Linked DNA regions of Homo sapiens: regions 1, 2 and 3 are each linked to region 4. Evidence: fine-mapped expression QTL. A gene starts in region 4. Each other region holds a variant in brackets. All regions are shown on one strand. Distances are from middle to middle.

Region 1 (7,870 bases), 70 kb after region 4:
TACAGGCTCATGCCACCACGTCTGGCTAATTTTTGTATTTTTAGTAGAGAGAGGGTAGAGACGGGGTTTCACCATCTTGGCCAGGCTGGTCTTGAACTCCTGACCTTGTGATCCACCCACCTCAGCCTCCCAAAGTGCTGGGATGACAAGGCTGAGCCACTGCGCCCGGCCAATACTTGATCATTATTTTCTTTTGGATGAAAAGAATTTCAGTTTCTTTTACTTTTCCTCACTGGGCTATTTCATAATAATTAGATTTTATTTAAATAAATAAGACCTATATACAAAGTTTGATCATTGTTATCACAGGGGAACTACAAGTGTCAGGTTAAATTATATCAAATTAACCAGTTTCCCCATGCATGCATATGATAGACAGATTAGAGAAAAAGCTAACCTACATCTAGAATGCCAAAAGAGAAATTCTACCATATTCAAATTAAACTGATTCCTATCAAAAGTGTACAATTCCTACCTTGAAACAGATTGTAAATAATGTTCCAAGCAATTCTGAGCTAAAGTGAATCAGATTTTTTTTTTTTTAAGAGACAGGGTCTCGCTCTGTCACCCAGGCTGGAGTGCAGTGGTAAGATCATAGCTCACTGTAAGCTTGAACTCTTAGGCTTGAGCTGGGCCTCATGAAGAGCTGGGGCTATAGGCACATGCTACCAGGCCAGGCTATTTTTAAAGAAAATTCTAATTAGTTCAGCCACTGTGAAAAGTAGTTTGGAGATTTCTCAAAGAACTAAAAAGAGAACTACCATTCGACCCAGCAATCCCATTACTGGGTATATACCCAAAGGAAAACAAATTGTTCTACCAGAGACACCTGTACTTGTATGTTTGTTGCAGCGATATTCACAATAGCAAATATATGGAATGAATCTAGCTGTCCATCAATGGTGGATTGAATTTTAAAAATGTAGTACATATACACTAATGGAGTACTACATAGTCATAGAAAAGTACAAAATCACATCCTTTGCAGCAACACGGATGCAGCTGGAGGTCATTATCTTAAGTGAATTAATGCAGAAACAGAAAACCGAATATTGCATCTTCTCACTTATAAGTGGGAGCTAATCCTTGAGTACGCATAGACATAAAAATGGGAACAGTGGACGCTGGAGACTCCAAAAGGGGGGAGGGAGCAGGGAGTGAGGGGACAAGGGCTGAAAAACTTCCTACTGGGTACTATGCGGGGTAATGGGACCAATTGAAGCCCAAATCTCAGCATCACGCATATATACCCTTGTAGCAATATACCCTTGTAACAAACCTGCACATTTATCCCAATCCAAAATAAAAATTTAAACTTTTTTTTTTTTTTGGAAAGACAAGGTCTTAGTATTTTGCCCAGGCTAGTCCGAAGCTCCTGACCTCAAGCAATCCTCCTACCTCGGCCTCCCAAAATGCTGGGATTAAGTGTGTGTCACCACGCCCAGCCTGAATCAGACCTTTTGATCTTCCCATTGTTTGCCTTCATTCTTGACTCTGGCCATAGATCTGCTGGCTACTGACTCCTCTCATCTAAATTGGAGTCTCGAACAGATTTCTTTTAAATATGTTCAACCAATATGCTAACATACTGAAAGCTATTAGGTAATCAGATGCTTTTGCTTTCAAATAGGAAAGGTATCTCCTGGAAGATAATGTAAATGATTGAACAAACTTAAGTCATCTATATTATCACCATACTTTATCATCTTTATTGCAGATGCTGAAGTCTTTATTCCTGTAACTATTAGGGGAAAAATATCATCTGAGCCAGATCCATTCCTTTACTTGGTCTCGCTCTAAGCCTACGTGACAGGATGGAGAGTGATCTCATTTTAGAAAACATTGAATGAAATGGAGCATTCTTTAAATGAGACACATACACACAGTTCAGGGCTTCTCAGTCTCAGCACTATTGACATTTTGGCTGAATAATTGTTTGTTGTGGGTGCCTGTTCTGTGCGTTGCAGGATGTTTAGCAGCATCCTTGGCCTCTACCCACCAGATACAAATAGCACTGTCCTTCCCTCTCCTGCTAGCTGTGACAACCAAAAATGTCTCCAGACATTGCCAAAATCCTCCTCACCCCCACTGAGAACCACTGACACAAATCAAGAAGAAAGTTTTGCCATTGTATTTTCTGAATGCCTTTCCCGAGTTTAGCGGGGGGAAAGTCGATTTCTTTATGGGAATTTTTTTGTGTGGGGCTGTTTTACAAAATCCAAACTATAAATAACAGACGTAAGTGAGAAAAGATTGAACGTTTATTACCCAAGGCCATATAAATTCAATAATAAATTATGGCTTTCTCTAAAAATATGAGAAGTCTTTTCAAAGTCATTAGTTCTAATCATAAATGAATTTAGCAGCATTTCTTTAAATTTTGCCCTCTTGTAATGAACTCTGATACATTCATGGAACTGGTTGGTAAATAAAGAGATAGAAAGGTCTAATTTGCTGGTTCATTAAGCTAGCTTATTTCAAGACACCGTGCATATTGCTTTGAATTTCATATTTCTGAGCAGTGGAGACAATAGTAGTATCCATCTCTAATGTAGTGTGGCAGACAATTAGGAGCTCAAATGTAGTAAATCTCATTTCATCAGAGATATACACAGTGATTATTATTTTATTGCCAAATACTGTCAGCATTACATTTCTTCAACAGCTATTGTGATACCTGATTCACATGCTTAAATTTGCATTAAACACTGTGCTAACAACAATAATAATTTGGGCTGTGTTTTCTTACGTGACATTATTCTGTTCTTTTCCGTGTGTGTTCACCCAATGCTAGTTTCAAGGGTGCAAAGTTTTATGAAGACTTGATACAGGAAAGGCAGCTGTAGCTCTAAGGAAAGGCCATGGTTTTGGGGTCAAAAACAAGCACTAATGCTGCCCCTTTCAATTAAGGTAATCTTGGGAGGTTACTTCACTTAAAATAGAACTAGAAGAAAGAATCTTATTTTATTGTTTTACGTTGTCTTTGTCAGATTTTTAAAACTGCAAAAACATTGCTTTTTGAAACAAATGAAATTATACAACAAAGAAGCTGATTATTCACTCTTCCATCTCCCTTGACCATCCCTATAGCCTATTTCTCTTCAAGTAGGTAATACTAATGATTTAGTATATATCTACCTTTCATTAATCTTCCATGAAGCCCTGCAAGTAATTTTACCTAAATATAATCTTTCCTTTTTTAAGTAAAAAATTGAATTGATTTATACATATTTTTCTCTAACTTGCTTTTCTGAGTTTAGATCTAAGCCATTATTTTAAATAGTGGCATAGTATTTCATACTATGGGTATATAACATTTGTTCAACATTTCCCTCCTGATTGACCCCATGTTCTTTCCAGTCCCTGGGCACGCTACAAACAATGATGTAATCAATGTCATCAGGCCTACAGCGCTGGGGCTAGATTCTTTCCTGCAATTAGAAATGGGAAACAGGGACATTTCACCCAGTTGAATACCTCTGGGGCTCAGTTTCCGCATTTGCATTGTGAGAATCACATCTGTCCTACTTCCTTCACACATTGATACATGGATGGTTGGAGCCAGCAGATTAAAATAAAGTGATGGTTTGAGGATCAGAAGGGCCCTCCATAAAAACCCCACTCTAGCCAAGCTGCAGCTTTGGAAAGCTACCTGCTTTTCTCTGCTTTCACAATCTCAAATAATATTTGTACACTTGCTGTATGCTCTTCAGCTCTGGAACATTTTTTTCAGCAGTTAAAACCACTTTTTCAGTGGATAATTCACTATTTCAGTGATCGGTATTTAGTTTACAAAGAGTCGTGTCAGGTAATACTCCAAGGCAGCGCCTGACTTCTGAAAGCCAGAGTAGACGAAGCATGTGCATGTGAGTGAGTGTGTGTGTGTGCATGAGAGGATAAGTGTGTGTACGGGGGAGAGAGATAGAGTGCACTCAGTAAATTCACTCAGTGTGAAAGTCATCCAGTAACACGGTCACAAGCAAGAGCGAGCTCTGGAAACTGCCCATATGGTGAAGGGATATATAAATATTTAATATATTTAATATTTTACCTGGTACCATAG[C/T]CATTTTAAATTATTCTACTAATATTATCTAATAATATGTGGTATACCATTTCTCTCCAAGAAATTAAAGTTCTGAAAAATACATCCATACTTACATCTTATTGCTTCTTCAAACCACACTTGTGTTCATGAAGCAGGAAAGGGTCAACGTGCAATGACTCATTATTTCACATTTACCTGACAGGCTGCAAAAGTGCACATGATATTATAGTTCAAGGGCATTTAGGTCAGAGGGTATGCTGAGGGCTATGACCCACCGGGTTATGAAATGAGCTGAAATATCAAGACTGACATTTCTTAAGTGAAATAGAATAGAATGGAAAATGTCAGAGTACAACACTCCAAAATATGATAGTTGTTGCTTCATGAATATTCTGTTTCAGAAACATAAATATGTGTAGGTATGTCGTATGTGCTAGATCTCAATGTTATTAAAGCTATTAAACACATTATAAGGTACCTATTCTAGGCTGGGCACGGTGGCTCATGCCTGTAATCCCAGCACTTTGGGAAGCCTAGGTGGGTGGATCACTTGAGGTCAAGAGTTCAAGACCACCCTGGCCAGCCTAGTGAAAGCCTGTCTCTACTTAAAAAAAAAAAAAAAGAAAAAGAAAAAAGAAATCAGCAGGGTGTGGTGGTGCACACCTGTAGTCTCAGCTACTCAGGAGGCTGAAACAGGAGAATTGCTAGAACCTGGGAGGTGGAGCTTGAGGTGAGCCAAGATCATGCCACTGCACTCCAGCCTGGGCGACAGATTGGGACTCTCTCTAAAAAGAAGTACCCATTCTAGTGACACTTTGCTTATGAGATCCAAGACAGTCAACCACTTTGCTATCTAGTACAGCTGCCTCTCTGTGTACTATAAAGATGTCGCCAGATAAACCTTCCTTCCTTCTTCAAATGTGTCTTTTCCCCCATTATTTCTTTCTGGAAAGTGGTCTTTGATGCAATGGAGTATGGAAACAGGAGGCTAACACATAACCACACATTTATGTTAAACCTCAAGAGGTGGTCAGTGCTGGTGAGATAAAAATCTGTTTGCTTTGGGGAGGCTTTGCTCTGAAGAATTGGGTGAGGCCTGGAAGATGGAATCCCTTCACCCAAGACAGAGCAGGAACCCTGGAGGGAGGGAGGGGGTGGAGAAAAACAGGTGGGTGGGCAGATGGCGAGAGTAGGAAGAAAAAGGAGCCCACAGAAGAGGAAGAACTCCCAAATGCCCATTAGGAGGTGATTTAAGAGATAAAATAATATTTTGTTCCATCTTCTGAGTTGCTGTAAATCTTTCTGTTACTCCATCGACTCAATAAATCTTTATTGAACATTTTCTACATGTCAGGTTATACTTCCTGGACATACCAGGAATGACCAGAACAGACAGACGTTCCTACATTACGGGACTTACAATCTAGGAGAGTGGGGGAGGACAGACAGATATTAAACAAGTGAAGCATGCCGAATGTCAGGTGGCAGTATAGGTGATGGGAAAAAAAAGTCAAGCTGGGAAGGAGATAGGTGTGTGTGGCATGGGGGCTGGGGGTGAGGGTTTGCAATTTTATAGACAGTCGTTGTGGTCAGTGAAGAAAAGGTAACTGTGAAGCTGAGACTTGGAGAAAGCATAGAAGCCCAGATATCAGGGGAAGAACACTTCATGCAGGAGTGTCCCTGGGTGACCCAGCAGAGATGCAGGGGACAGTAGAGGAAGCTGGGGTCGCGGGACATTGTGGGTGGTGGTGGGGTCCCATAGTGCACAGAACCTTGAAGGTCATTGTGGAGACTTTGCATTTTGCTCCAGATGAAATGAGATGCCATAGGAGGTTTGGAGCCAGGGGTGACATGCTCTGACTTACATTTTAAAAAGACTACTTTGGGTGCTGTGTGGGGGACAGTACCTGCATGCTCTCTCAGACGCGACAGATGTGACTAAGGCACAACAGAGAGCAACACAGATGTATGTGAAGCAGGAATTCAAGCAGTGAGGGAAACGTCAAAGTCGGTTACAGGTCAATGTCCACTGCTCCCATCCTATCATATCATCAACTCAATCATGAACAGGAAGTGGGAGTTTCTCCATGACCAGCAGCAGGAGCCTAATCTACAAGGGTCAATGGAGAACCAGGCCATGTCTCCCTTCAGACTCTGGAATCGGAGTCTCCCCTTCCATGAGCTCTGGCTGACATGGACAGTCCCCCTCCCTCGCACTCGTGCTCTCTGCCATTGCTGCATTCTTTGCTTCCTGGGCCTGTTTCTGAGGCCAGGCCTCAGGTCATGTAACACCAAGGAATACAAGGTCCCTGTAGCTGGGCTATTGTCATGGTCAACCCAAAAAGCAACTCTGTGCTTTTCTGCTGCCAACTTATCTGCATGGCCATGGCTATGCCATTGCACATTTCCTGCGGCCGCTCACTTCTAGGAGTGGTAGGAGTCCTTTACTCTGTCTCTTCCCTGGGCAGAAAAGTAAAGAGAAACTGCCCCAAAGCACTCAGTTCCACTCTCCTGAGCAATCTTTGCAGGCTGACAAAAGGCCATGAGTCTTTCTCTTTCTCTACTGTAGGCCTCTCCCTACCTTGCCCTGTTAGATAGGTGGGTGGATGGGTGGGTGCAACAGAAATGAGTATCCTAAATGTAGTTCCCCTTTCTCTGTCTAGTTAATGGAGGAGGGAGGGCAAAATTAACCCCAAAGGCAACCACTCTGCTGGCCTTTCTTCAACTCTGGAATACATTCTCCCAGTATTCAGACCTTTCAGCAGCAGGAAGACCACCCTCTCTCCCATCCTGACTGTGCCCAGTACTTGTTCTCAGCCTCCCGCAACATATGTGTGTTGTCAGAGAACAGAATGTTAGCTCCAGCTGTCTCAGGTCCAGACCAGCAGGTTATATAGAAATTATCATAAAATAGGGGCTTAAAACCTAGATGACGGGTTGATGGGTGCAGCAAACCACCATGGCACATGTATACCTATGTAACAAACCTGTGTGTTCTGCACATGTATCCCAGTACTTAAAGTATAATAATTTTAAAAAAGAAATTATAAAATAAGCGAATCAGTTGCTCTCAGAAAGGGATGTATGTTGACCATACAGATTAGTACCTATAAATCCTAAATTACCTTCCTTAACATAAAAATTGTCTCCTGCTCAGAAAGAACTTTGTAAAACCCCACTAACCTGCTGCTTTCAGATACTCAGACCACTGAGGCCAGTGGATTATCAGTTTTCCAGGAAGTGTCTGGCATGGAATCCTGGTTCTGTTGAATGAGCTCCTTTAGGTGTGATGGTGAAGGAAAAAAAAATTAAGACCTCTTGGCATTCATAAAATCTGCAGTGTAGAAATTCACATACCTTTTTCCGTTACATTACATTGCTACAACACAACTCTACCTTGCAGTGTATCAAAAATGATTGGAGGACTTTCCTATCTTTACCTTTCTTCCCCTAGTCTTTGTGCTTGCAGACAGAATGCCATCTCCTCTCTAGTGGCAGCCAAAGGATGTTGGGGCAAACAGTCCCTCATTAATTAATTAATTGAGCAGTTGATTGTCAATTTGTATCTTTTTGTAAGTGTTTAATGTTTGACTTTTTTTCTAATATTCTTTCTTTTCAAAAAAATTCTAACATACAAGAATCTACCTCCCTCCTAGACCTAATTAACTCTGAACATTTTGCTAGCTGGGTGTGGTGGCACATACCTGTAGTCCTAGCTACTCGAGAGGCTGAAGCAGGATTGCTTGAACCCAGGAATTCTGGGCTGTAGTGTGTTATGTCAATTGGGTGTCCACACTAAGTTTGACATCCGTATGGTGACCTCTT
Region 2 (7,870 bases), 320 kb after region 4:
CCTGAGTTAGCTAGTAAAAATACAATATTGCAGCTAGGATGCAATACTTGGGATGTACATACACTAAAAAAATTTTGATGTTTATCTGAAATTCAGATTTAACTGGACATCCTGTATTTCAGGGGTTCCCAACTCCCAGTAAGGAACTGGGCCTCACAGCAGGAGGTGAACAGCGGGTGAGTGAGCAAAGCTCCATCTGTGTTTACAGCCACTCCCCATCGCTTGCTTTACCGCCTGAGCTCCACCTCCTGTCAGATCAGCAGTGGCATTAGATTCTCATAGAAGCACGAACCCTATTGAGAACTGCGTATGTGAGGGATCTAGGTTGCTGGCTCCTTATGAGAATCTAACGCCTGATGATCTGTCACTGTCTCCCATCACCTCAGTTGGGACTGTCTAGTTGCAGGAAAACAAGCTTAGGGCTCCCACTGATTCTGCATTATGGTGAGTTGTAGAATGTACAATATAATCATAATAGAAATAAAGTGCACAGTAAATGTAATGCACTTGAATGATCCCAAAACCATCCCCCTGGGCCCTCACCCTTGGTCTGTGGAAAAATTGTCTTCCACCAAACTGCTCCCTGGTGCCAAAAACTTTGGGGACTGCAGCTGTATTTGATCTGGTGACCCTACGTAGTATTTATCACAATTTTAATTTACCTTATTATTATTATTATTATTGAGACAAAGTCTCACTCTGCCACTCAGGGTGGAGTGCAGTGGCATGATCTTGGCTCACTGCAACCTCTGCCTCCTGGGTTCAAGCAATTCTCATGCCTCAGCCTACCAAGTAGCTGAGATTTGGCTAATATTTTGTATTTTTGGTAGAGGAAGGGGTTTTACCATGTTGGCCATGCAGGTCTCGAACTCCTGGCTTCAAGTGATCCACCCGTCTCGGCCTCCCAAAGTGCTGGGATTATAGGCGTAAGCCACCGCACCCAGCCTGAATTTACCTTACTTCTTGTCCATCTCCCCATCTAGTCTGGAGGTTCCATGAGGATGGGGACCTTATATGTCAATTTCATGGCTATATCCCATTTCCTGAAACAATGTCTGGAAATGAAAAGGTCTTTAGTAGATATTTATTAAGTGAATTAATAAATGAATATATTATGTCACCTGTACAGTTATGCTTTCTGCCTTGAGAGGCCCGAATCACCCTTCACATGCAGAAATTGGGTTTCTGTTTTTCAACAGTTGAATCAGTGCTTCAAACGATGGCATCCGAGTGTGTGGTCTGTTGGCTAAGGGTTCCATTTTTCACATTGCTGTTGTTGTCTGCCCAGTAGAGTGTTGGTTTGTGTGATTATTTGACTATTTTAGGAGCTCATTGCTCTTATTATTTTGTAAAAATGAACGAAAATGGAAAAGCAAAAGTGCTGATAGTGGTGATAAGATTCTTGTCTCATAAACTTAGTATAATCACACCGCAAAATAAATCACAAGACAAGCCAAATGCAGCAGATCTTCAGCCCTGATCAGAAGCGCATAGAACGCAGGCTGCCTGGCTGTCGAATCATGCAAGGAGAAAAAGGAGCAATAATAAGAACATGCGTGAAATCCTAAGGCTCTGTCGCTGAGGACTGGTTACAGTGGAATTAGAAATTTTTTTCTTTCAGCATCTGGAGGCAGTAATCACTTTTAACAAGTGAATCTATTGTTTGATTTGGGGCATTGGCTTTTTGTTCTGCCTGCAATTTAAGGCACAGCTCAAGTGTCACCTCTTCCCTGAAGACTTTCCAGCTCCTTTTCCCCCAGCCCCACCCCTGAGAACTATTTTTTTGTTTTTTCCCCTGTGCTCCCAGGAGTGTGTTGTTTGAAACCATTTTAAGTATGTGTTTTCACTCTCCTTTTAATTTTACTCACCTACTACAATTGTTTCCTCCTTTAAATAGCAAATTCCTTGAAAATAGGAAATGCTTTACACTCCCTTCCTGCAAATATCCCAAACTCCGTTATAGGGAGCTCAGTGCTAGCGTGGAAGTTAATGTGGACTTGATGTTAAAAGCCCGGGTTTAGAACCCAGCTCTGCCCTTTGAAAACTTTGTGCCCTTTGATATACAATTGCATTCCTCTCCAAGGCTCAGTTTCCTCACCTGTCAAATGGGAACACAACTGTCTACTGAGAGGTTTATATGGGTTACTATTGGGGAACAATTGGAACTGTAAAATGCCAGCTCCGTGGAAGGTCTTAATGATGTCTAAGCAGAAACAATGATCAAACATGTTGGTTGAATGAATGTCTTTGTTAGCTCGAAATCTCAAGAGTTGAAAAAGAATATCAAGATATCTCTATATAAGAATACAGAGTTTTTACATAGGCAAGAATGTCTCTGGATTCTGATGGAATAGGCCCCTCCACTCTAATCTCACCCTTCTACCAAGTAGGATTGAATCTATCTGCTCCTGAACAAATTCTGTCCCGACCTGGCCCAATGCCTTAAGCCTTCACCATTACTCCTGTAGGCTGATACATTCTGTTCATTGTCTCTGGGCTGAAATCAGTGGGCCTCCAGACAGGCTTAGTAGGTCAAGTTGGGGTGAAGAAAAAGCAATGCATTTGGGGCCTGGCGGCAAAGCCTTCTACAGCCCTGCCACATACCACCTACTTGACCCCCAACCTCAACATTCTGTAATTCAACCTTTCTTAGCTTCAGTTTTCTCATCTAGGAGTCATGCATGATAAGCACACCCTCTCTCACAAGATTACTAAGGCACAGTTTCTCAACCTCAGCACTATCAACATTCTGGTTAGATAATTCTGTGTGTGTGTGTGTGTGTGTGTGTGTGTGTGTGTGTGTGTGTGTATGTGTGTAGGGAGACTACCCTGTGCATTACAAGATGTTTATCAGCATCTCTATTCTCCAGCTACTAGATGCCAGTAGCACCTTCTACCGGTTGTGACAACCAAAAACATCTCCAAATATTTCCTGGGAAACAAAATTGCCCATAGTCAGGAAACACCACAGTAAGGATTAAAATCAGTAATTCCTATGTGAGCCTTTGTAAATCTGAGAGCCCAATACAAGTGTTAGTTTTAATTATTTTGCTCTGATTTCAGAGAAAATTAAATTTCCCTCTTCTGTGATTCCTTAGCACTTAAAAAATAATAACAGCTAGCAATAATTGAATACTTGTTATGTGGTAGGCTCTGGTATTGTCTTATTTCGCACATAAGAAAACTAAGCCTCTGAGTGGCATGCCCAAGATTACAAGAGTAAGCAGTCAAGGCAAAATTTGAACCCACAATGTTTGTTCAATGAGTCTAAACCCATGCTCTCAACTTGCATTAGTTATTTATTGCTGTATAACAAATTATCACAACTTAGCAGCTTAAAACAGCATACATTTGTTTTCTCACTGTATCTGTAGGTAAGGAATCTGGGCACAACTTAGGAGGTCCTCTGAATAACTACAACCAAGGTTTTGGCCAGGACTGAGGTCTCATTTGAATGCTCAACTGAGCTACTTTCCAGTTCACATGGCTGTTGGCAGAATCCAGTTGTTTTTAGGTTGTAAGACAGAGCCTCAGGTCCCTACTTGCTGTCAGCTGGAGGTCACCCTCAGTTCCTTGCCAGTTGAGCCTCACTGTAGGATAGCTCACAACATGGCAACTTGCTTCAACAAGTCTAGCAAAGGAGAGAGACTGTTAGCAATACGGACATTGCAATTTTATGTAACATAATCATGGAAGTGACACGTTATCACCTTTGCTATATTCTATTGGTTAAAAGCAAGTTGCTTGGCCAACCCACCATCACACAGTGGGATCACAGGGGCAGACATACCAGGAGGTGAGGATCCTTGAGGCCATCTAAGAGTCAGCCTACCAATCCATGCTGTCCTGCTTCCTGC[T/G]TAGCCCACTTATTACAAATGTGTAAGCCTCTTTCAGCTACTAGCCCAAGTGCTGTTTTTAGGGTTTTGTTTTTGCTTTGTAGATTGTCTGCATCTTCGCAGGCTGCAATAACAAAATACCATAGAGTAAATAGCTTAAACAACAGACAATTCTTTCTCACATTTCTGGAGGCTGGGAGATTCAGGATCAAGGTGCCTACTGATTCATTTTTCTGATGAGGGCTCTCTTTCTGGCTTGCAGACAGACACCTTCTTGCTGTGTCTTCAGACAGCAGAGAGAGAGAGAGAGAGAGAGAGAGAGAGAGAGAGAGCTCACCCTTCCTCCCCTTGTAACGCCATGAATCTTGTGATGAGGGTTCTATGCTCATGACCTCATCTAAATCTAATTATCTCCCAAAGGTCCCATCCCCAAATACCAGAGAGAGGGATGTTGATTCTTCTAGGATAGGCTATATATATATATAGGATATATATATATATATATATAGAGAGAGAGGATATATATATATATATAGGATATATATATATTTAGGATATATATATATATAGGATATATATATATTTAGGATATATATATATAGGATATATATATATAGGATATATATATATATAGGATATATATATTTAGGATATATATATAGGATATATATATATAGGATATATATATAGGATATATATATAGGATATATATATAGGATATATATATAGGATATATATATAGGATATATATATAGGATATATATATATAGGATATATATATATAGGATATATATATATAGGATATATATATAGGATATATATATATAGGATATATATATATAGGATATATATATATAGGATATATATATATAGGATATATATATATATAGGATATATATATATAGGATATATATATATAGAGAGAGAGGATATATATATATATATATAGAGAGAGAGAGAGAGAGAGGATATATATATATATATATGAGACAGGGTCTTGCTCTGTCACCCACATTGGAGTGCAGTGGCATGATCACTGCTCACTGCAACCTCAACCTCCCTGGCTCAGGCAATCCTTCCCAATTCAGCCTCCTGAGTAGCTGGGACTACAGATACGCACCACCATGCCTGGCTAGTTTTTATATTTTGTGTAGAGATGAGATTTTGCCATGTTGCCCAGGCTGGTCTTGAACTTTTGAGCTCAAGTGATCTACTTGCCTTAGCCTCTGAAAGTGCTAGGATTACAGGTGTGAGCCACCCCATCCAGCCTGGAATAAGCATCTTTTTTATATACCTATCTTGGAACCTAAGCCAAGGCTTGGTACTTGGTAGGTCTCAGAAACTGTAGGCTGAGTGAATGAAAAACACATGCATAGGAACAGAGGAAAAAGTTCCAAGAGATTGGGACCCAGGACTGGTAAACATTAAGGGGGGTTGTGGAGGCACTCTGAAATAAGGAAAATGGAAGTCTGCCTGAGTCAAGCAATATGACAGAAACATGGGCTTTGAAGTTCAATAAACTACACTGTTGAATCAATCTCTGCAAGCAGCATTTTCTCTCTTGCAAGTGGGAATATTGTTGATACCTGCCTCAAAGTGGTGTTGTGAGGACTGGAGAAGGTAATGCATGAAAGTCCCTCACATAGTTTATGTTTAGATCAGTGGATGGCAAAATCTGTATTAGTCTCTTTTGCTGCTATAACAAATGACCACTATCGGAAGAACCAGCCCCAATATTTCAATGTAGGTTCTTTTCTATTTCCCCTAAGTGTTGGCCAGTCTGCGAAATAAAGAGAAAGAGTACAAAAGAGAGAAATTTTATAGCTGGGCCTCCGGGGGTGACATCACATGTCGGCAGGTTCCATGATGCCCCTTGAGCCACAAAACTGCAAGTTTTTATTAAGGACTTCAAAAGGGGAGGGGGTACGAATAGGGAGTGGGTCACAGAGATCACATGCTTCCTAGGGCAATAAAAGATCACAAGACAAGTGGCAGAGCAAGATCACAAGGCCAGGGCGAAATCAGAATTACTGATGAGGTTCCATGTCCTGCTGGGCACACATTGTCATTGATAAACATGTTAACAGGAAACAAGGTTAGAGAGCAGACAACTTGTCTGACTAGAATTTGCCAGGCTGGAATTTCCTAATCCTAGCAAGCCTGAGGGCACTGCAGGAGACCAGGGCGTATTTCATCCCTTATCTTCAACCGCATAAGACAGACACTCCCAGAGCGGCCATTTTACAGACCTTCCCCTGGGAATACATTCCTTTCCCAGGTTTATTCCTTGCTGGGAAAAGAATTCCGCGATATTTCTCCTATTCGCCTTCTGCAAGAAGAGAAATATGACTCTGTTCTGCCTGGCCCCACAGGCAGTCAGATCTTATGGTTATCTCCCTTGTTCCCTGAAAATCACTGTTATCCTGTTCTTTTTTAGGATGCCCAGATTTCATATTGTTCAAACACACATGTTTTACAAACAATTTGTGCAGTTAATGCAATTATCACAGGGTCCTGAGGTGACATATATCTTCAGTTTACGAAGATGATGGGATTAAGAGATTAAAGTAAAGACAGGCATAGGAAATTATAAGAGTATTGATTGGGGAAGTGATAAATGTCTGTGAAATCTTCACAATTTATGTTCTTCTGCCACAGCTTCAGCCGGTCCCTCCATTTGGGGTCCCTGACTTCCCACAGCAGACGACAAACACAGTGGGCTTAAAACAATGTGAATTTATTATCCTATAGTTCTGGAATAAAAATACTGGGCTAAAATCAAGGTGTCAGCCTATCTTCCTTTTGGAGGCTCTAGGGGAAAATCTGCTTCCTTGCTTTGTCCAACTTCTAGAGACTGCCGGCATTCCTTGGCTTGTGGTCCCTTCTTCCAGCTTCAAGGCCAGAAGTGTGGCATCTTCTCTTTTCTCTGACCTCAGCTTCCATCCTTACATCTTCTCTCTCTGATTCTGATGCTTCTGCTGATCTCTCACAAGGACTCTTCTGATTACATTGGGCCCACCAGGATAACCTCCCCATCTCAAGACCCTCAACATAATCACATCTGCAGAATTCCTTTTACAGTGGAAAGTAATATATTCACAGGTTCCAGGGATTAGGATATGGACATCTTTGGAGGGCCATTATTATTATTATTATTTAATTTAAAAAGAGACAGTATCTCACTATATTGCCCAGGCTGGTCTTGAACTCCTGGGCTCGAGTGATCCTCTTTCCTCAGCCTACCAAAGTGTTGGGATTACAGGTGTGAGCCACCGTGCTGGCCTGGAGGCCATTGTTCAACCTGCAAAAATATGCTGTCTGTTCCCAAAGTTTTATGTCTATCTCAACTGCATTGACCCATTCTTAAAAACTCCCAACCCATTACAGCAATCAACCTGAATCCAAAATCTCATCTAAGTCTTATCAGGTCAAAAGTTTCATTTCTCATCACATAAATCATCGAATATAGGCATGGGTGAAGCTCTGGGTATAGTCCAGTGTGTGGCACAATTTCTCTCTATCTGTGGACCTATGAAGCTAGCAAAGAAATTATCTGCTCCCAAAATACAAAATGAAACACACTCCACCAGGGTAACAGCACTCCCATTCAAAACGAGAGAAGAAGGAAAGAAAAAAAAGAGTCCCTGGTCCCAAATGTTTTCTAAATCCAACCAGAAAAACTCCATTAGGTTTCAAGGCATGGCTCTCAGCTCTGCCTTCAGAGCCTATAAGGTCTGCTCTCACAGTCATCTTTCCTTCTTCATAAAGGGTAATACTTGTTTGCAGCTGTAGTTTCACCCACCTGTTTCCTGTCTGTAGAATTTTGGTGATCTGACAACCTTCTTTCATTTTGTTCTCTCTGTCCCTTTCAGGTCAAGCTGGCAGTGTTTTGGGGCACATACCATTCTTAAAAGCCTTGTGAGTTTCCTGCATATGTCACATGGACTCACTCCATTTGACCATCAGGCCAAATCAAACCTATTGCCTCTTTTTGTAAATGAAGTTTTATTGCAACACAGACACACCTACCTGTT
Region 3 (7,870 bases), 97 kb after region 4:
AGCCTCTACCTCCTGGGCTCAGGTGATCCTCCCACCTCAGTGTCTTGGGTAACTAGGACTACAACTACTGTCACACTGGGCTAATTTTGTTGTTGTTGTTGTTGTTGTATTTTTTGTAGAGACAGGGCATCACTATGTTGCCCAGGCTGGTCTTGAATTCCTGGGCTCAAGTGATCTGTCCACCTCAGCCGAGCCACTGTGTCTGGCCCACTCAGTATATTTTTATGTCATTGAATAGCTAAACCATATTCAAATTTCACCAATTAAGCTAAAAAGACCTTTATAACTGGCTTGTCCTCTCCAGAAATCCTCTCAAGAATCAAATCTGGCTGATATAGTCCTTATTTCTACCCAGTCTATCCTGATTTCCTTTTTGATGACATTGGCTTGTTGAGGACACTGGACTGGTTTTCCTGTGGAATATCTCACCTTCTAGATTTGTCTGATTGCTTCCTTACTGTGCCATGTAGCTGATTCCTGTACCCCTCCATCTCCTGCAAATGATAGGTTAGATCTAAAGGACTGATGGATTCAAGACAAGCATTTTTGGCTAGAATATACCATAAGGGATTCTGTATCTAGAACTACACTACTCAGTGTGGTAGCTACCAGCCACATGTACCCATTTAAATTTAAGCTTAAATAAATTAAAATGAAAAATTCAGTTCCTCAGTTGTATTAGCCACATTTCAAGTGCTCAATAGCCCCATGTGGCTAGTGGCTACCACTTAGACAGGGCAGATATGAAATATTTCTTTCATTGAAGAAAATTCTACTAGACATACTAACTAGAGAATGAGTCCATTTCTCCATCTCTTGAATCTGGGCATCACTATGCAACTTTGTTCAGCCAATAGGATACTAATAAACATCATGCAATCAGAGGCTCGGAAAATGCTTGTGTACCAGGGCTTTCCCTCTTTTGCTATTGAAACCTCGAGACCACCACGTGAAGGAGCTCAGGCCAGCCTACTGGAGGATGAGACACCACATGGAGCATGGCCCCAGCTAGTCCAGATGAGTTCCCAGAGATGTGAGTCAAGCCATCCTAGATCATCTCAACAGACCATGTGAAGGGAGGCCTCAGCCATCCAGCCATCTCTGCTAACTGCCAGACATTTGAGTGAGGTCATCTGGGATCCATCAGCCCCAGCTGGGCCACCAGCTGTCCGTAGAGACCAATAAATTTGGCCCAGACAGAAGAACCAACCAGCTGACCCACAGAGTAATAAAGAATAAGAAATGATTATTGTTTTTAGCCACTAGATTCTTTGAATGATTTGTTACTCAGCAATAAATAACTGACACATGATCAGAAAGGAATTTATATAATGTTACTTTGGTCCTATGTCTTGTTCTGTATCCCACTCACTTAATATATAAATCTTGCCTAAATCAATAATTTCATTAGGTTTTGCAAGATCAGGTTTTCAACCTTTATCGTTTCTTCTACGTTCATTAACTGGTGTTCTTTTGTAAAGTAGAGATTCTCTTCAACAGGTGGGCTAGTTGGCTATCCTGTCATATAGTTCCTACTGGAAAAGGCAAAATGTTTAATTTTTTTCCTTTAATGACCAACTAAAAAGTAAGGAGTGGTTTAATGGCCATCTCGTATAATGTCTTTTCAGGCTTTCTCTTTTTTTAGTATCTTTATGAAGTCACACATTTCATTTATTAAATACATTTTATCTATAATCATTATTTTATTAAATTTTATTGTGGTAAGAAAACAACATGAGATTTCTCATTTACAAATTAAAAATTTGTAAAAAAACCCACAAATTTGTAAGTGTTCAATACATTATTGTTGACTGGGGGCACCATGTTACACAGTAGATCTCTAGAGCTTATTCATCTTGCTTGACTGGAACTTTATGCCTGTTGTTGCCTCTGTCCCAGAGCTCCAGCTCCTGTCAACCACCATTCCGCTTTTTTAAATTTTAGTTTTTTGAGATGGGAGTCTCATTGTGTTGCCCAGGCTGGTCTTGAACTTCTGGGCTCAAGCGATCTTCCTGGCTCAGACTCCTGGATAGCTGGGATTACAGGCATGAGCCACTGTGTGATTCCATAAATTTGACTGCTTTAGGTACTTCAAATATGTGGAATCATGCAATATGTTGCTTTCTGTGACTGCTTTACTTAGCATAATATTCTCATAAAGTTCAGCTATGTTGTCACATATAGTAGAAATTTCTTCTTTTTTAACTTTGAATAATATTCCACTGTGTGGATATACCACATTTCACTATTAATTTTCTCATGAACATTTAGTTTTTTCCATATCTTGGCTATTATGAATAACCATTGTATATGGTATAAGGATCCAATTTCATTCTTTAGCAGATGGATAGCCAGTTTCCCATCATTTATTAGAGACTGTCCTTTCCCCATTGTATATCTTGATACCCTTATTGAAGACCAGTTGACCATGTATTATGCACGGATTTATTTCTGGGCTATTTGCTCTATTGGTCCATATGTCTGTCTTTATGCCAGTATAGACATATATACTATACTGTTTTCATTACTGTAGCTTTGCAATATATTCTGAAATTGGGAAGTATTATGCTTCCAGCTTTGGTCTTCTTTCCCAAGATTGATTTTGAATATTCCTTCCTGTGGTCTTTTATGGTTCCATATGAATTATAGAATTCTGTTTTTGTAAAATATGTCATTAGGATTTTGATATTGTATTGAATTTGTAGATCACTTTGGAAAGTATGAACATTTTAACAATACAGTAGTTCCCCCAACAATTGTCTGCAGGTTTGCTTCCTATGGTTTCAGTTATCCACAGTCAACCACATTCTGAAAATATTCAATGAAAAATTACAGAAATAATTCATTAGTTTTCAATTTTGTGCCATTCTGAGCAGTGTGATGAAATCTCATGTTATGTTGCTCTGTCCTACCTGAGACATGAATCATCCCTTTGTCCAGCATATCCATCTTATATATGCCACCCACCCATTAATCACTTAGCAGTCATCTCAGTTATGAGATTAAAAAACATAGTATATTTAGGTTTCAGTACTATCTGTGGTATGAGGCATCCACCAGAGGCCTTGGAATGTATCCCCCATGGATAAAGGGGGACTTTTATATTAAGTCTTCTAAATGATGAACATGGATGTCTTTCCATTTGTTTGTGTCTTGTTTAACTTCTTTCATCAATGTTTTGTAGTTTTCAGCATTCAAGTCTTTCACCCCCTTAGTTAAGTTTATTCCAGTATTTTACTTTTTTGGTGCTATTGTTAGTACGATTATTTTCCTAATTTCCTTTTCAGGTAGCTCATTGTTAGTGTATAGATATGCAACTGATTTTGATATGTTGGTTTTGTGTCCTGCTACTTTACTGAATTTATTTATTATTAATAGTTCTAAAGGATTTTCTAATGGAGTCTTTAGGGTTTTCTATATATAACTTCATGTCATCTGCAAACAGGGACAATTTTACTTCTTCCTTTCCAATTCAAATGCCTTTTATTTCTTGTTCTTCTTAATCGTTATTCTTTTTGATGCTCAGTTGACCCATCTGTAACCAGAAGAAGCCCCTTCATACTGCCTTCTAAGTTATTTTGACACAAATCTACTAATCCTGGAAATTTACTTGCTCTCTGGTAGAACAAGCCGCCTCCGGCTCACCAAGTATCTTCTTTGCTTCAGACTCGCCATTTCTCTAAGGAGTGCCAGGTCCTTTAAGAAGGATTTTCTTCTATTGAAGAAAATCCAGGTACTGTGGTGTTCATTTCTACTGAGGTGACATGACTTGCAGGCCATTCCATTTATAGAAATATAATTTGGTATAAGGACTTCCTTTCCCAGGCTCCTCATTTTGCTCTTTGTTCTCAAATTAGCTCACAGCAGTTCTCACTCAAGGTGCAACCCTCTCCTGTGTTTGGTCA[T/C]TGGGAGATTTGCAGTTTGTAGGAAATTTCAGCATTCTGCTTTCCTTCCTGTTGCACCATGGTTGATTTCATGCCAGTTCTGCTACCTTGGGGTTTGAGGTTTTCTAAAATCTCTTAGTTTTGCTAAAGATGTTGATGTTGTCCATGAGTTTTGTCTTTTCTTATTCATGATGTTCTGTGTGCTTTTCAGAAACTGTAGTAGAACAATTGAAAACCGAGTGCTACAATCCCTATACTTAATCCTCAATGCGTGGGCAAGTGACCCAGGCCAGGTTCATCAGAATGGTTCATCCTCCCGGTCATGGTTATTAGTCAGAGAAAGGCACTATTCAATCAAAAGCCATGTGGTCCTTTTGCTGGAACTGTTGGGTTAGAGGAGCCTAATTCTTCCCGTGGTCTTTTGTGGTTCCATATGAATTATAGAATTCATATGAAAGCCTGGAATTGCTGATAGCTAATGGAGAGACCCTGACTGACTGAGCCTGAAGCCAGCATAGAGAAGAGAATGGAAAGGTGAAAAGAGATAAACTGCTGAGGACTTCATTTGAGCATCTGGGTCTGGCATTCCCTGGAGCCAGACCAAACCTAGGTTTTTCACTTATGTAATTTTAAAAATTCCTTTTGGTTAACTAAAATAATTAGGATGAAGTGTTTATCCCAGCAAGTGGCACACAGTAAGCCCCCAATATATGTTATCATTGTTATTTTTGAAACCAATTTGAGTTGCGTTTCTATCATTTGCAACTACAATAATAATGACAACTAAGAAAATAATACCAAAGATTTTTGAGAAGTGTGCTAGGTACTTTACATATTACTTCACTAAATCCTCACTTCAAGCCATGAGGTAAGTATTCTTATTCACATTTTATAGAGTTGAAAAGGAACTGAAGCTTCAAGAAGCTTAAGTACTTTGGTCACAGAGCTAGTAAGCTGAGATTTCAACCTTAGCATTTAGTGCCTCAAATCACTTAAAAATTATTTGTGATTTTTAAAATAATTTAAAAATATAGGCACTTAATTGAAATCAGCCAGAAAATCACCTATAACATTATGCTTTGTCAAGAGATATGTCTGTGTGTTTAGAGTCTACGCTTTGTTAATGGCTCATGAAGTTGGAAGCTGCGCTGATTTTCCCAATAGTGCACTGTAATGGCTTTATACCAGATTTTATAACCAAATGCCCAATTTTACTTTGCAGAGCTCTTCATGTTGATTTCTTTGAAAACTGCCAATTCCAACAATTAGCAGAGTAGCTGAACAACTGAACATAGTGGGATAAAGAAGACCAGATTTCTAGGACAATGCCTTATTTATGAGAGGAAATTCTATTCAGCAGCCTCTCGCTTCCAAAGCAATGAAATTTCTTCTCCTAGACAAATAGAACAGCATGTTTCAAAATATGCACTCTTCACCATTTAATGGAAATTTCATGAAAGTGTTACAAATGGAATTAAATTACTATCCATTTTTCTTTTTAAATATGTTCAGTAATAAATAAGTTTAACCAAAGTGGTGTTATCATTATACATTCATTTTAACCCCATTTCTTTTTTTTTTTTTTTTTTTTTTTTGAGACGGAGTCTCGCTCTGTCGCCCAGGCTGGAGTGCAGTGGCGGGATCTCGGCTCACTGCAAGCTCCGCCTCCCGGGTTCACGCCATTCTCCTGCCTCAGCCTCCCAAGTAGCTGGGACTACAGGCGCCCGCCACTACGCCCGGCTAATTTTTTGTATTTTTAGTAGAGACGGGGTTTCACCGTTTTAGCCGGGATGGTCTCGATCTCCTGACCTCGTGATCCGCCCGCCTCGGCCTCCCAAAGTGCTGGCATTACAGGCGTGAGCCACCGCGCCCGGCCTTAACCCCATTTCTTTATGGCACCTTTGTAATAATCATTCCATTAATAAGCTCTAATGCTTTTCTACTTCCTTCAATGGAAAAAAAAAACAGTAAAAGGAAAAAGAAAAAGAATGAAAATACTCTGTCCCATCAACATCTAATTGGAACTTCTCTGGGGAAAGATTTATTTTTTAAGTACGATTATATAGCTTTTAATGTCTAGGATAATTCTCTTAAGTTTACAGCCAGCCTGTGTCTGGAAAAGTAATTAAAATAATACTATGAGTTAGGTACTATTGTTGTCCCCATTTTACAAATAAGAAATCACAGGCTCAGAGAAGTTAAATGAGCTGAGAAGCAGCACACAGCTAGTCAGTGAAAGGATATAAACCTAGATGATTAAACATTTATGCTTGCCGTTTCTACTTTTTCTCTTCTAATGAGTTTATTGAAGACTTGGGAGTTGGAAAGGATAACTCACATCTGCTCCAGGAATTGCCACTTCCAGAGCCTACTGTCCTGAGCTTATCCTCGGGGACTTACCTGCTTCCCAGGAGACCTCCACAAGCCAAGGATACAGCTAAGCCACCCGCCGAGAGATCAAGGTCTCCCATACGGAGGAGAAAAGTTTTCCCTAGCTTCTTATCATTCCCAGGTTGACTTCTCAGTCCCTAGAATGACAGACAGTGCTAACATCCAATTCCAAAGAGGGAGGCCCACCACCGTACCACCTGGTCTGCTCTCAGAATCCTGTTCCATATGGAACGCAGCAGGTCAGATGCTTGGTGCCAGGCATGGTAAAATGGAAAAATGCTGAAGGCTGTGTCTGTTGGGCATGTGCCATCTTATAGAAATGGAAAGTAGATTCCAAACATTCAATAATCTCATGTTACGGTTCATGAGTACCTTAGAATCAACTGAATTTTCACTTTTCATCTATTGTAGGGGATAGGTGTTAGAAGGATCCACGAGGATGGCTTCCACCTTCCAGCAGTGGTCGGCAATCCCATGACTGGAATTGGTCCCTATTGATCTTCGGTGGCATTTTGTCCAAGGTCACTGCTTACCTCCAATCTGATCCTTATTTTGGAGGCAGTGCAGCACAGAGGAAAGAACTAGGCACTGGTATCTCAGAGATTGGGAATGGAATCCCCATTCTGTTTCTCACTAGCTGTATGGTCTTGAGCAAGAAGCTTTCACATTCAGATCTTCAGCTGCCTCATCTAATATCCAATAGTGATAGTGAAGAATAAAGGAGACAATATATGGAGATTATTTAGCACATGCCTGGCACACAGTGGGTATCTTAGAAAGAGTAGCTTTTGTGTCTTCAACTCAGCTTTTAGAGAGCATTCATGTTTTACTGATCCATTTCCTACTGCCCTCCTCGGTAGCCATGAACCTAGCATGTGCCTTAATATGTGTTCAGTAAATATTTGCTGAATGATGAATACGCGAATAAATGAATGAATATGAAAACTGTCTATGATGTCTAGAGGGACATTTGAGCAATCTCATTTTTTAGTCGTGGAGAGCAATATCTGCTATTTGGCAGATAGCATTATCAGGAATCATCAGAAAGCATGCAGAGTTGTGAAATGTCAATGCACCCATCCTTTGAAGAGTCGGCACTTCTGCCAAAGCTGCACAGAGCAGAAAGCTAGCTGGAAATGAACAGTGGCCTTCTCCATCACGCTTCAGCCCCAGGAGAGCAATGGGGGTTGCCTTGGGAGCAAGTACCCCATCACTGAATGACTAGACAGCTAGCAGCACCCAGGAGGGCCCATGGGCTGCTGGGCATTGGGTTGAGAGCTGGGAAACAGAGCTGAAAGACAAAACTCCTGCTTTTGAAAGTTCACAGCTGCTGAAGAAGACAGCTAAAGAGAATCCAGGTTGTGGGGTGAGCAGGGTGGATACAGGATGTGATTTGAGAGGTGGCAAGACCCCCTTGCCTAACAGTCTCTCCTTATCTGGTACCAGGCCTGGAATCCCCCATTCTGCAGACTCTGGGGCTAGATCAAGCTGTGTCTAAATTCTTCTCTGTATCCATCCTTGGCCCCTTACAGCCCAAGTTCCTTGATCCTTTGGTGACAATGGTCACTTTTCACATAACTTTCAGTTTCAGTCTG
Region 4 (7,870 bases):
GGGAGTGGGGGTGGGAAATACTTTTGTTTCTATGTCCAAAAGGAATAATTTGATTATACAAGAATAATGGAAATTTTCTTATAGGAAAAAAATGTCATAGAGCTGTTTTGCTTTGAGATGAAGGCATGCAATTTGGTGCCTAAGAAAGCATTTAAAATTCTTGCCTGCAGCTTCCTAGAAACAGTAAAAGGAAAATACGTTGATCCTGGCCAATGAAATGTGAACAGTTTTTCCTTAAGTATTAATCTACTGAACAAATGTTGATAATGAAAGAAGTAGGCATATAAATGCTGTGAGAGAACCATGATTTATGTATTTTCTACTGCTGCTTCTGCTATTTGAGCCTGGGAAAATGACTAAACCAAATCTCAAGAGCAGCATTTTGCACCGTAGATAGAAACAGAAAACAGAAAATTTTAAGTTATAAGGAATTAATAATGTCTCTTCTTTTGTGTCCTTTTCTGAAAAATAAATCTCTCCCCATTTGGGAGACATAATCACTTAACTTCCATTTCCTTATACCTAAACTCAACTTCAGAGCCCAGGACCCTCAGAAATCATTTGGTCCAACGTCCCATTTCATAAATGGACACATTTGAGATTCCAAGAGGTTAAGTGACTTGTCGAACACCATGTGCTCATTAGAATAAAAAATATGAAGATTTAAAGTGGAAGGTAGTGACCTAGGAGTGGGAGGACCTGGGTTCTCCCTCCCACTCAGCTATTCATGAGCTTCTCTGTTTGTAAAATTCAAGTGTTAGGATTAGATGGTTTTGAAAAATCCTTCCCTCTCGAAAGGGGTTATAATTCTGTGCCCGGGAGCATCAGTAGTTTGTGTATGTTAGTTTACTGCTTTTATAAACTCAAAAGCTTTCTTCACAGTTATAACAAAGAGGCAGTGTTTGTGGAGATCATGAGGATGGACTCTAAACACAGAGTTCCTCAGCTGGGTGTGGTGGCTCACGCCTGTAATCCCAGCACTTTGGGAGGCTGAGGTGGGAGGATCACTTGAGCCCAGGAGTTCTAGACCAGCCTGGGAAACATAGGGAGACCCCATCTCTACAAATAATTGGTTTTTTTTTTTTTTTGAGACGGAGTCTCGCTCTGTTGCCCAGGCTGAAGTGCAGTGACACGATTTCGGCTCACTGCAAGCTCCGCCTCCCGGGTTCATGCCATTCTCCTGCCTCAGCCTCCTGAGTAGCTGGGACTACAGGCGCCTGCCACCATGCCCAGCTAATTTTTTGCATTTTAATAGAGACGGGGTTTCACCGTGTTAGCCAGGATAGTCTCGATCTCCTGACCTCATGATCCACCCGCCTCGGCCTCCCAAAGTGCTGGGATTACAGGTGTGAGCCACCGCATCCGGCCTCTACAAATAATTTTTTAAAAATTAGCGGGGCATGGTGGTATAAGCCTGTGGTCCCAGCTACTCAGGAGGCTGAGATAGGAGGACGGCCTGAGCCTGGGAGGTTGAGGCTGCAGTGAGCCATGATGATGCCACTGACTCCAGCCTAGGTGACAGAGTGAGACCCTGTTTCAAAATAAATAAAGTCAGACTTCCAGCTCTTACACTTACTTGAAAGTAAGTGTAAAGTAAGTGTAAGTGGTGAAAGCGTGAACAAATTAACCCTTCTGCCTCCTCTGCAAAATGAAGACAGTAACAGCACATACCACATCTGGCCATTACAATGATTACATTAAATAACACATGTCGAGAATTTAGCACAATGCTTGGCATACGGCAAGTGCTCAGTAAAAGGTGGCTGCCATTAGTATTACCATAAAGCAACCAGAGTTGGTGAATTTGTGTGGGTTATTAAGAAGGCATTCCCTCCTCTGGGCAGAGGCAGCCCAAGCGCTAAGGGCCACAGCAAGGCAGGATCGAATTCTCTACAGCCATGGGTCTAACTTTAAACAAAGAAATAAGAAACCATTTCCTACCCTCCCTTGCTCAAGTGCTCACTCTCAATTGATAGCCAATGATATGTTTAAGTGTTTGTTTATAATGTAGGGCTTCTAGAAAGCTCTTCCTACTTAGATGGCTGGAATATTGCTGCTCTTTTCCCTTTTCTTCTTTCTGCCTGGAATGAAGAAATGATGGCTGGGGCGTCGGCAGCCTACTGTGATCATGAGGGAAGGGCTAAAAGATTTTCAGAGATTCAGTCCTTGAGCCAATAAATCAATGTCAGCAACTACTGACCTCCAAACTTCTTCTTTCACGAGGAAAATAAACTCATGTACACGTTTTTTGCTACTAGTATCAAACTGCAATTCCTAACCCATACACCCTCCAAAATCTATTTTCTATCAACATACATTTACAGATGTGCCTGGTCAGCCACTTGCTGCTGGCCACTTAGGAGTCCCAAGTCAGGTGCTCAATAGTTGATTTTCTTGAAAAATCACTTAGATTTTTAAAAAAATATCCAAACTGTCCCCAAGGGCCTTACTATTCAAAGTAAGGTCAGCAGACCAACAGCATTAGTCTCACCCCGGAGCTTGTTAGAAATGCAGAACCTCCGGCCCCATTCCAGAACTACTAAATCAGAATCTTCATTTTAACAGGGTCCCCAGTGATTTCTGCACATAGTGAAGTTTGAGGCTCTGGACTAGGTTTACCGGCTCTGCTCTGTCATCCCTCCTCAACACTGCTGCCAGAATAATGTTCCTGGAGCACACCTAGTCATGTCGCTCCCCTTCTCAAAAGATTTCAAGGGCTCCTGACTGCCTGCAGACTAAAGTTTCGACTTCTTAGCCTGATCATTAAGGCCCTCTATGATCTTGCACTATCCTGAAAATGCCCATCAAGGTGCCTGCCTTGCATGTAATCAGTAGGCAACAAATAATTTTCTGCACAGAAGAAAAAACAAATGAGTGTGGGTGAGAAACAATGCGTTGCTTAATTCTGGCTTTACCATGCTAAGCACTGGGGATGCAGTGGTACCAAAAACCAGGCATGATCCCTTGCCTTCAAAGAGCTTAGAGCCTAGTTAGAAGAGCATGATTTTTAAAAAGAAATGAAAGTATATAATGACAAATTATAAGTGCTAAGAAGGAAATGACTAGAGGGCAGGGATACAGAGTAAAACAGACGGGTTAGAAGGAGGCCCTACGGAGAGGGAGCCTGTTGTGGGGCTGGTCCAGGCAGAGGTACCAGCACATGCAAGGTCCTGCGAGACAAATGCGGTGTGTCTGAGAATCATAACAGGGGCTGCCCTTTCAGGCTTACCCAGAAAATAGATATCCTGGGAGGAAGGTGGCATAGGGTTCACCTTCCAAGTCACTTAAAGATGAAATGCTGCATTTCTTTTCCCTGATATAGGTCCTTCACCGGGATCACGGATGAGTTAGCGAGCAGGGGATGCTGCGGAGTCGCTGTGAGTCCAGCACTGGAAATCAGACCAAGCGAAATTTGAATCCCAGCTCCGCTACTTCCCGGCTCTCAACTCCCTTGACCTCCAAGCCTCTGCTTCCTGAGGTATAAAGTGGGATTAAGGATGGCAACAACTTCGTGATTACTGTTGAGGGAGATAATGCTTGCCAAGCTCCCCAGCACACTGCCACCCACATCAGTGCGCACCTGAGTATCAGCGGTTTTAGGATTACGATGACTATTACTATCGTAAATTACTCCCAGCTTTCGGGCAGAAGGCTCATTCCAGATATTCCTGTCCCCTCTGAGGCCTCCCGACCCTGCCAGCCCAGGCAACCTCCCCCGCGCACGGCCACCGTGACCCCAGCGCGGGCGCCGCCGCCGGACCCCCGTTACCTGGGGCCAAACGCGACTTGTCGCCACCTTGCGTCCTGGGCCCTGCCTCCCTCCCGGCCGCCTCCCGACCCCGCGGCTGCTGCGGAGGCGCCCCCAGCCCAGCCGGGCCCAGGCGGTGCGGGATGCCTCGGCGGGGCTGGCGGCGGCGGCCGCGCTGCGCGCTCCGGCGGAGGGGAGGGGGCTCCGCGGCGGCGGCGGCGGCGGCGGCAGCGGCGGCAGCGGCGGCGGCGGGCCCGGCGGGGGGCAGAGCCAAGAGGCGCGGCGGCAGCAGCGGAGGAGTAGGAGGAGACGGAGGAGGATGCGGGGGGCTGCGGACGGTGGCGAGGCCCTGTCCGCAGTGAAGCCCGCGGCGCCTAGGGCGCAGGGAGTGGCCGCCTCCTCCTGCGCGCACCATTCCTGAGATGGCGGCGGCGGCACAGCGGCGGCTCGGGGAGCCCAGGAGGGGCCGGCCGGGAGCGGGCTGAGCCCCGCAGGACGGGGAGCTCGCCCAGGGCCGGCGGAGCGGCGGAGCTCGGGCCGGGCGGCCTGCGGGAGCGGCGAGGCAGGGGACGGCCCCGGGGCGGAGCGCACGGCCTGGTGAGGCCGCGATGGCGAACGCGAGCGAGCCGGGTGGCAGCGGCGGCGGCGAGGCGGCCGCCCTGGGCCTCAAGCTGGCCACGCTCAGCCTGCTGCTGTGCGTGAGCCTAGCGGGCAACGTGCTGTTCGCGCTGCTGATCGTGCGGGAGCGCAGCCTGCACCGCGCCCCGTACTACCTGCTGCTCGACCTGTGCCTGGCCGACGGGCTGCGCGCGCTCGCCTGCCTCCCGGCCGTCATGCTGGCGGCGCGGCGTGCGGCGGCCGCGGCGGGGGCGCCGCCGGGCGCGCTGGGCTGCAAGCTGCTCGCCTTCCTGGCCGCGCTCTTCTGCTTCCACGCCGCCTTCCTGCTGCTGGGCGTGGGCGTCACCCGCTACCTGGCCATCGCGCACCACCGCTTCTATGCAGAGCGCCTGGCCGGCTGGCCGTGCGCCGCCATGCTGGTGTGCGCCGCCTGGGCGCTGGCGCTGGCCGCGGCCTTCCCGCCAGTGCTGGACGGCGGTGGCGACGACGAGGACGCGCCGTGCGCCCTGGAGCAGCGGCCCGACGGCGCCCCCGGCGCGCTGGGCTTCCTGCTGCTGCTGGCCGTGGTGGTGGGCGCCACGCACCTCGTCTACCTCCGCCTGCTCTTCTTCATCCACGACCGCCGCAAGATGCGGCCCGCGCGCCTGGTGCCCGCCGTCAGCCACGACTGGACCTTCCACGGCCCGGGCGCCACCGGCCAGGCGGCCGCCAACTGGACGGCGGGCTTCGGCCGCGGGCCCACGCCGCCCGCGCTTGTGGGCATCCGGCCCGCAGGGCCGGGCCGCGGCGCGCGCCGCCTCCTCGTGCTGGAAGAATTCAAGACGGAGAAGAGGCTGTGCAAGATGTTCTACGCCGTCACGCTGCTCTTCCTGCTCCTCTGGGGGCCCTACGTCGTGGCCAGCTACCTGCGGGTCCTGGTGCGGCCCGGCGCCGTCCCCCAGGCCTACCTGACGGCCTCCGTGTGGCTGACCTTCGCGCAGGCCGGCATCAACCCCGTCGTGTGCTTCCTCTTCAACAGGGAGCTGAGGGACTGCTTCAGGGCCCAGTTCCCCTGCTGCCAGAGCCCCCGGACCACCCAGGCGACCCATCCCTGCGACCTGAAAGGCATTGGTTTATGAGGGAGGCCCCGCCACATAGACCCCCAACCCAGCCTTTCCCTTTGGCTCGGACGGTGACGTTGTATCTTTTCCTTCTGGCCCCTGTTTAATTTTCTAAGCTGCCTTCAAAATGACTCGAAGTGGACAGACACTTGGATTGTACTGACTCCTTTGGGGGTGGGGTGGGTGAGGAGTAGGATGCTCAGCCCACTCCAGCTCCGCACATTCGTCCTCCTAACTCGACTTTCTTCCTGACAATAGGCCCTGCAGTCTTTTTGTAGCGGTACTGACGTCTTTTATTCCATGTGTGGTTCCTTTTTTTCTTTTTCTATAAAGGCTGTACTAATTTTCTTCATGCAACGTTTCCTAAAGACCATGGCCAGTTTTCTACAGAAGCTATTTTTGACAACCTCAAGTGGCATTACATTTTGCAGTGAAGTAGAGGAACCTAGGGGGACTTCTTCACAAGTTAGATTTCTTGAGGATCTTCTGTTGGAAGCAGGAGAAAGTGGGGGGTGGGGGGAAGTTGTCCGAAATGCCCTCTGAATTGCCGGCTGCAGGGTCCTTGTGCTGCGCTGGTTCTTTGAAAGTCTCAGTGTTGATATTGAACTTAAAGAGCAGAGATGGAGATCAGTAGCAAGGCAGTCATTTTTTTAAAGCAGTAAGTAACAAGTAAGATTTGGTTCCCGGTTTACTTTCTGCTGCTAAAAACCACGTCAGTGACAACTGCTCTCTGTATTATAGCAATCTTGAATGGAAACATTTCTGTCAAGTTGTAAGTTTTAAAAGAGTAAAGTGTTTTGGTTAGTAATGATGTGGAGAAAAATACAGTATTGCATGTGTTCGTGTGTATAGATTGTGGTTCGAGGATTGGGAGGGCTCTGAGAAGCAGAGTACTACATCAAAATTGTTTTAAGTATTTTTTGCCAATAAAAAATTAATTTTATGGAAATGGCTTGTGCTTTGAGAAGCCCAGTTTTATTCTGTCTTATGAAACTAATTTCCACTTTGAAAATTGTTCTTCTGTTGTTTATGGTATAAATGAATGGAATATAATGATATCCTCCTTCTAGGAAACAAAGCATTTCCTTAAAATGTTTGCTAGGTTAAGCTGTGCTGTTCTACTGATGGTTGTTTTAAATTAATAATGAGAACTATAATTTAAATAATATTTCTTTGTTAGACATTATAATGTTAAACTGAAAGACTAAATTCTGCAAGTACTATATAATATTTTTGGCTTATAATGCTACATTTTTATTAATGTACCTTCCGTTTTGAGGATTTATATCTGTATTTCTCTTTGCATTATACAAATATACCAGTATTTTCATTCTGGAGTGGTTGTTTTGTTGTGGTGGTGGTGGTGTTTGAGGCTGTAATAATACATGCGTCGAAGTATGTTACATGCCTCTAAGTATGTTATGTAAGGATAACATGCTCTATGATCCTTTTAGCACGTGTTCTTCAGTTACAGGTTTCATAGTTTGACCATCAGCATATCCAAGAAAAGTGGAGGCTTAATTTAAAATGCAAGATAAAATCTGCGAAACTTTTCTTTAAAGGGAAGAAGCAGTAGACATATATACGGCTTTAAAACTGTTTTTTTATTTGGATGACAACATTTCAATGACTATTCGTTAAATGACATAAAAAAGCTTTTAAGTAAACATATCAAACTCAAGTACAAGCGATCATTTTGATAAAAGTACTAGGTAAAAGTGGGGGTGGTAGATTATATTGAAATTTAGCTGAGTATAATATAAACTATTAAATGTTCAGTCCAATGGGAATAAGTTATAAAAAGAGTGTGGCCAATTTAATTGATCTCTGGTAAATAGGCTGCATGATTTTATTTTGTTGTGGAAGTTAATCAGTCTGTGAAGACAGTCTCACACTTGGAAAATATGAGACAGTTACCCTATTTCTCCCCACATCATGAATCCAGGTTGGCCTCAATCATCCAAGGGCCACTGATCGGAAACCTCAGCCAACCCCAAGATAGAGGAGCCCAGAAGTACCTCTCTCCTCATCTAACCCTCCACCTGCCCAAGTGATCTCAGTTCCAAATAGAGGTCGAACCAGTCTACGATGGCTCATGCCTGTAACCCCAGAACTTTGGGAGGCCGAGGCAGGAGAATTGCTTGAGACCAGGAGTTTGAGGCCAGCCTAAGCAACATAGCGAGACCATGTCTCTACAAAAAATCAAAAAATTAGCTGGGTGTGGTAATGTGCACCTGTGGTCACAGCTACTGGGGAGGCTGAGGTGAGAGGATGGCTTAAGCCCATGAGGTCAAGGCTGCAGTGAGCCATGACTGTGCCATGGCACTGTAGCCTGGATGACAGAGCTCTCGAGACCCTGTCTCAAAAAAGCCCCCAAAACAGAGATCACCAAGTCTCTGTGATT

Direction of the effects. Alleles are on the strand shown, and positions count from the first base shown. SD is a standard deviation of normalised expression in the study named. Not every link is listed here.
In carriers of allele T in region 1, the expression in subcutaneous fat of the gene that starts at base 4,162 in region 4 tends to be lower than with C alone (moderate effect, 0.46 SD a copy in FUSION).

Evidence for each region. PIP is the estimated chance that this variant, and not a neighbour inherited with it, causes the effect. A credible set is the group of variants that fine-mapping cannot tell apart.
Region 1: its variant is the best candidate, but not a certain one, in a credible set for the expression of GPR27 in subcutaneous fat (FUSION, PIP 0.69).
Region 2: its variant is the best candidate, but not a certain one, in a credible set for the expression of GPR27 in substantia nigra (GTEx, PIP 0.81).
Region 3: its variant is the best candidate, but not a certain one, in a credible set for the expression of GPR27 in whole blood (TOPMed, PIP 0.85).

What each region holds. Positions count from the first base shown.
Region 1 is chr3:71,819,449-71,827,318 of GRCh38, forward strand. It overlaps the pseudogene RN7SL271P. Among named protein-coding and RNA genes, the nearest start is that of PROK2, 38 kb to the left of the region's middle. The variant C/T (reference allele first, on the strand shown) is at 4,064.
Region 2 is chr3:72,070,017-72,077,886 of GRCh38, forward strand. All of the region lies in intron 2 of LINC00877 (long intergenic non-protein coding RNA 877), which reads right to left. Among named protein-coding and RNA genes, the nearest start is that of LINC00877, 27 kb to the right of the region's middle. The variant T/G (reference allele first, on the strand shown) is at 3,858.
Region 3 is chr3:71,846,917-71,854,786 of GRCh38, forward strand. No RefSeq gene overlaps it. Among named protein-coding and RNA genes, the nearest start is that of PROK2, 66 kb to the left of the region's middle. The variant T/C (reference allele first, on the strand shown) is at 3,906.
Region 4 is chr3:71,749,694-71,757,563 of GRCh38, forward strand. GPR27 (G protein-coupled receptor 27) reads left to right here and starts at 4,162. Exons shown (of 1, transcript NM_018971.3): 1 at 4,162-6,803. The coding sequence starts at 4,357. The coding sequence ends at 5,484. It also overlaps a transcript of EIF4E3 not described here.